Linked DNA regions of Homo sapiens: region 1 is reported to be linked to region 2. The links are microRNA targets in miRTarBase. Many come from high-throughput screens and were not tested one by one. Region 2 holds a microRNA gene; the other region holds the end of a gene's coding sequence.

Region 1 (3,000 bases), not on the chromosome of region 2:
CACAGAAGGGATTCAGACTCTGGCCTTTTGATTGACCACCTTTTAAGATTGCTTGAAAAGACAACGCCCTTCCTATTAGCACAGCTGAAGCCAATCCAGAACTAAACATCAGCACACAAAAAATACCAGGATAGATGGAATCAAAAGACTCTGAAGCCAAAAGGAGGCTAGGGAGAGCAACTGAACTTAGCAAGCTGAGGACTTCAGTGTCCATCATCCGATCCTGCCCTGTAACAACAGGTCTATATGATAGAGATATTCCATCTGAGCTGGAGGCCATTATCCTTAGCAAACTAACACAGAACAGAAAACCAAATACATGTTCTCATTTAGAAGTAGGAGCTAAATGATGAGAACTCAAGGACACAAAGAAAGGAACAACAGACACTGGGGCCTACTTGAGGGTGGAGGGTGGGAGGAGGGAGAAGAGCAGGGAAAATAACTACTGGGTACTAGGCTTAGCACCTGGGTGACAAAATAATCTGTACAACAAAACCACTTGACATGAGTTTACCTATATAACAACCTGCACATGTACCCCTGAACCTAAAAGTTAAAAAAATAAAAGGGATAGTCTATCTGATGCTTAAATTGATCTTTAATAACCTTCTGCATCCCACCACCCCACCAAAACCACAAGAGAAATATCTCAATATTCTGTGGGCTTAAAACCACCTACACTGCCCCTTGGGTTAGAGAACAGGATTCCGTGGTCCTCTTTGAAAAATATACATTAAAGAAAATGTTAATTGCTTTTATTCATACTGTGTCTCTCCCTGACTTCTCCAAAAGCTTGTGTTTCAAAAGGTCAGAATGGTTGTTGTTACAAATATGCTGCCTCCCACTCTGTTTAGCATCTATACAAAGCAAAACGTTTTGTATGTTTCCACAAATTTTCCCCCAAAATTATCTCTTCCTTTACTTTCCACCTACCTCCTCTGAGATGCCAAATTAAGAAATGTCTTAGAATATCTAGAATATTCTTCCTCTTTTCATATTCGATTTGTCTTAGCATATAAAAAATTAGTTGACATGGCTTTCGGAAAGTCCAGTTGGCAGCAGAGCTGGACAACAGATGGCCACCCAGAAATTAGAGCCAGAAAGGTGACTTACTCAGCATGCATACACTGACAAGAATCCTATTTTTGAGAAACCCTAAAAATCCTTGACCTGATGTAAAGCCCAAGAGGCAGTTTAGAGGAAGAACAATGATTATAACCTGATTCCCTATCTAAAGCAAAATATACCACTTTTAACTGCCATAGACATGCCAAAAATATAAAACCAAAACCAAACCAAAACAAACAAACAAAAAATCCCCAGATAACAAAATACAGAAAATCAAACCAAAACCAAAAAACACCCCCAAACAAAAAACCACCACAGGCAACACACAAGCTTAAGATGTTTCCTAGAATCCATTCCAAGTGGTTTAAATTAGTCTAAAATAAAAATAGGTGGCTTTCAGTTCCATACGTTGTTTCTGCAGAAATAACTACTAGCCTATTAATCTAGAAATAATTTTTTTTGTTTAAAAAAAGGGAGAGTTTCTTCATTTTATCTTTATGATGAATTAATAGCTGCAAACAATCTAATTAATACTATCTACAACAGGTAATTTTTAGCTAAGATTTAAGTTCCTCGTAGCTCTGAAATTTTAACTGAATTTTAGTTGAACCTTAAGAAATGTTAACCATGACCTTAAAATAACTGCTCTATTGTAAAATTTAGAAGTCACATTCCTAATATTCCTCTCGCCTAGACTAAAAATTGTTGAAGGTCTCCTTTCACTATCAAAGTTCAAAGATACTTGTGCCACAGTATACAAATCAGCAGATTTGAAAACTATTTATCACCTCCAAAGTAACAAAAGAGATTCCAGTTCAAGTTGACAAAACACAAACTGGATTTAAAGTGCTGTGTTAAAAAACAAAACAAAAATACAGTTCCTTTACGGCAATTAAAATAAATGTTTCATTTTTGAAGCCATGACACTAAAAAGAATGAAAAACACATATAGGATAATTATTTTATAATTGTTCTTTTCATTCTAAGAACGTTGTGTTTTTCAGAGAAAGACAGCTTTCCAGCAAAAATTCATGCACAAAATACATATACTTGACAAGATGTTTCAGAGCCTACTATGTCATTTGGCTAGTCTAAATCCACTAATGTTAACTATCAACATTTTCCCAATACTATTTTTAAGTTACATCTCATTTACCTTCGTCCTTAAGAACTGCATAAGCTTGTTTTAAATATTTTAAATACTTGTCATAAACTAGAGTTTGCTAAGAGTAGAGGTACTCTGGTTAATGATCAAAATGGTGTGCCCAGAGGAAAAGCAAGCACTATTAAATATTAATGCAATCCTTATCAACACAAATTGAGCCATTTTAATAAAAAAGCTAGTCCAAAAAAGGTTCTCATTCTATAAAGATTAAATCATTTCCAAATCACAGTGAAAGGAACTTGAGTAATTAACCAATTTTGTTTTCTACTATGTGCCTTAGAGATACCTCACTAAAATTTTGTATCTGATACAACAGAATAACATTTGCAGAATGTAATATTGTAGTGACAGTACTGAGGTTGATTGTTACAGACTATTAAATGGTTACATCTTAATTGTTTATACAGAACATTGGTCCAATAACATTAAAATAGAGAACAGCATCTGGAAATTTATCTCATTCAATGTTCGGAGATAAAAGAGTTAAACATCCTTTCCATTATTTTCTGCAGTCAGTCCTTGTTCACAATCAAATCTGATGGCAACTACATTCTGGCATTTTCCCCAGCTACTGTATGAAGAGGATGCTGAAGGCCATTACTATACAGCATACTGCAACATAAGGACTCTTCCGTTCACCTGTTGAAAAAAAGGAGATGTTCATCTTGATTAACTGAGTGGCTAACCTGGCTATGACAAGGTTATACTACCATAAGAATCAAGATAACATTCTTCCCTAGGAGGCCCGCACATTGGGGGTGGGGCAG
Region 2 (3,149 bases):
GAAGAAGATTCTCCTGTCAGTTTGAGCTGGGTGAGCTTAGAGAGGAAAGCTCCACTATGGCTCCCAAACCAGGAAGGAGCCATAGCCCAGGCAGGAGGGCTGAGGACCTCTGGTGGCGGCCCAGGGCTTCCAGCATGTGCCCTAGGGGAAGCAGGGGCCAGCTGGCAAGAGCAGGGGGTGGGCAGAAAGCACCCGGTGGACTCAGGGCTGGAGGGGAGGAGGCGATCTTGCCCAAGGCCCTCCGACTGCAAGCTCCAGGGCCCGCTCACCTTGCTCCTGCTCCTTCTGCTGCTGCTTCTCCAGCTTTCGCTCCTTCATGCTGCGCAGCTTGGCCTTGCCGATGCCCCCAGCTTGGCGGATGGACTCTAGCAGAGTGGCCAGCCACCGGAGGGGTCAACCACTTCCCTGGGAGCTCCCTGGACTGGAGCCGGGAGGTGGGGAACAGGGCAAGGAGGAAAGGCTGCTCAGGCAGGGCTGGGGAAGCTTACTGTGTCCAAGAGCCTGCTGGGAGGGAAGTCACCTCCCCTCAAACGAGGAGCCCTGCGCTGGGGAGGCCGGACCTTTGGAGACTGTGTGTGGGGGCCTGGGCACTGACTTCTGCAACCACCTGAGCGCGGGCATCCTGTGTGCAGATACTCCCTGCTTCCTCTCTAGCCCCCACCCTGCAGAGCTGGACCCCTGAGCTAGCCATGCTCTGACAGTCTCAGTTGCACACACGAGCCAGCAGAGGGGTTTTGTGCCACTTCTGGATGCTAGGGTTACACTGGGAGACACAGCAGTGAAGCTGAAATGAAAAATGTGTTGCTGTAGTTTGTTATTAGACCCCTTCTTTCCATTGGTTTAATTAGGAATGGGGAACCCAGAGCCTCACTTGTTCAGGCTCCCTCTGCCCTAGAAGTGAGAAGTCCAGAGCTCTACAGTTTGAAAACCACTATTTTATGAACCAAGTAGAACAAGATATTTGAAATGGAAACTATTCAAAAAATTGAGAATTTCTGACCACTTAACAAACCCACAGAAAATCCACCCGAGTGCACTGAGCACGCCAGAAATCAGGTGGCCTCAAAGAGCTGCTCCCACCTGAAGGAGACGCGCTGCTGCTGCTGTCGTCCTGCCTGGCGCCTTGGCCTACAGGGGCCGCGGTTGAGGGTGGGAGTGGGGGTGCACTGGCCAGCACCTCAGGAGCTGGGGGTGGTGGTGGGGGCGGTGGGGGTGGTGTTAGTACCCCATCTTGTAGGTCTGAAACACAAAGTGTGGGGTGTCTAGGGAAGAAGGTGTGTGACCAGGGAGGTCCCCGGCCCAGCTCCCATCCCAGAACCCAGCTCACCTACCTTGAGAGGCTCGGCTACCTCAGTGTGGAAGGTGGGCAGTTCTGGAATGGTGCCAGGGGCAGAGGGGGCAATGCCGGGGCCCAGGTCGGCAATGTACATGAGGTCGTTGGCAATGCCGGGCAGGTCAGGCAGGTAGGATGGAACATCAATCTCAGGCACCTGGCCCAGGTCTGGCACATAGAAGTAGTTCTCTGGGACCTGCAAGATTAGGCAGGGACATGTGAGAGGTGACAGGGACCTGCAGGGGCAGCCAACAAGACCTTGTGTGCACCTCCCATGGGTGGAATAAGGGGCCCAACAGCCTTGACTGGAGAGGAGCTCTGGCAAGGCCCTGGGCCACTGCACCTGTCTCCACCTCTGTCCCACCCCTCCCACCTGCTGTTCCAGCTGCTCTCTCTTGCTGATGGACAAGGGGGCATCAAACAGCTTCTCCTCTGTCTCTGCCCCCAGCATCACATGGGTCTTTGTTACAGCACCAGCCAGGGGGTCCAGGAAGACATACTTCTTCTACCTACAGAGGCGACATGGGGGTCAGGCAAGCTGACACCCGCTGTCCTGAGCCCATGTTCCTCTCCCACATCATCAGGGGCACAGCGTGCACTGTGGGGTCCCAGGCCTCCCGAGCCGAGCCACCCGTCACCCCCTGGCTCCTGGCCTATGTGCTGTACCTGTGTCTGATGCCCTGGGTCCCCACTAAGCCAGGCCGGGCCTCCCGCCCACACCCCTCGGCCCTGCCCTCTGGCCATACAGGTTCTCGGTGGTGTTGAAGAGCAGCAAGGAGCTGACAGAGCTGATGTTGCTGGGAAGACCCCCAAGTCCCTCTTCTGCATCGTCCTCGGGCTCCGGCTTGGTGCTCACGCACACAGGAAAGTCCTTCAGCTTCTCCTGAGAGGGCCAGGATGGCCAAGGGATGGTGAATATTTGGTGCTGGGCCTAATCAGCTGCCATCCCATCCCAGTCAGCCTCCTCTGGGGGACAGAACCCTATGGTGGCCCCGGCTCCTCCCCAGTATCCAGTCCTCCTGGTGTGTGACAGGCTATATGCGCGGCCAGCAGACCTGCAGGGCCCGCTCGTCCAGGGGGCGGTGCTTGCTCTGGATCCTGTGGCGGGGGCGTCTCTGCAGGCCAGGGTCCTGGGCGCCCGTGAAGATGGAGCCATATTCCTGCAGGCGCCCTGGAGCAGGGTACTTGGCACTGGAGAACACCTGTGGACACAGGGACAAGTCTGAGGGGGCCCCAAGAGGCTCAGAGGGCTAGGATTGCTTGGCAGGAGAGGGTGGAGTTGGAAGCCTGGGCGAGAAGAAAGCTCAAGGTACAGGTGGGCAGCAGGGCAGAGACTGGGCAGCCTCAGAGGCACGGGGAAATGGAGGGACTGCCCAGTAGCCTCAGGACACAGGGGTATGGGGACTACCTTGATGGCCTTCTTGCTGCCCTTGATCTTCTCAATCTTGGCCTGGGCCAAGGAGACCTTCTCTCCAATGGCCTGCACCTGGCTCCGGCTCTGCTCTACCTGCTGGGAGATCCTGCCATGGAGAAGATCACAGAGGCTGGGCTGCTCCCCACCCTCTGCACACCTCCTGCTTCTAACAGCAGAGCTGCCAGGCCAGGCCCTCAGGCAAGGGCTCTGAAGTCAGGGTCACCTACTTGCCAGGGCCGATCTTGGTGCCATCCAGGGGGCCTCTACAAGGATAATCTGACCTGCAGGGTCGAGGAGTTGACGGTGCTGAGTTCCCTGCACTCTCAGTAGGGACAGGCCCTATGCTGCCACCTGTACATGCTATCTGAAGGACAGCCTCCAGGGCACACAGAGGATGGTATT

The links. Region 2 holds the annotated microRNA hsa-miR-6859-5p (GAGAGGAACAUGGGCUCAGGACA, at 1,883-1,905, opposite strand). A microRNA usually pairs through its seed, bases 2 to 8, with sites in the 3' UTR of a target mRNA and lowers its output. Matches are read on the target gene's strand: a 7mer-m8 pairs with bases 2 to 8, a 7mer-A1 pairs with bases 2 to 7 and ends in A, and an 8mer does both.
Region 1: the mRNA of TMEM167A is a reported target of hsa-miR-6859-5p. Seed matches in the 3' UTR shown: 7mer-m8 at 2,336-2,342 and 8mer at 1,196-1,203.

The regions. Positions count from the first base shown.
Region 1 is chr5:83,054,283-83,057,282 of GRCh38, forward strand. It overlaps TMEM167A (transmembrane protein 167A), which reads right to left. Exons shown (of 4, transcript NM_174909.5): 4 at 1-2,872. The coding sequence ends at 2,802. Among named protein-coding and RNA genes, the nearest start is that of TMEM167A, 22 kb to the right of the region's middle.
Region 2 is chr1:15,527-18,675 of GRCh38, forward strand. It overlaps MIR6859-1 (microRNA 6859-1), which reads right to left and starts at 1,910; the gene lies at 1,843-1,910. It also overlaps the pseudogene WASH7P.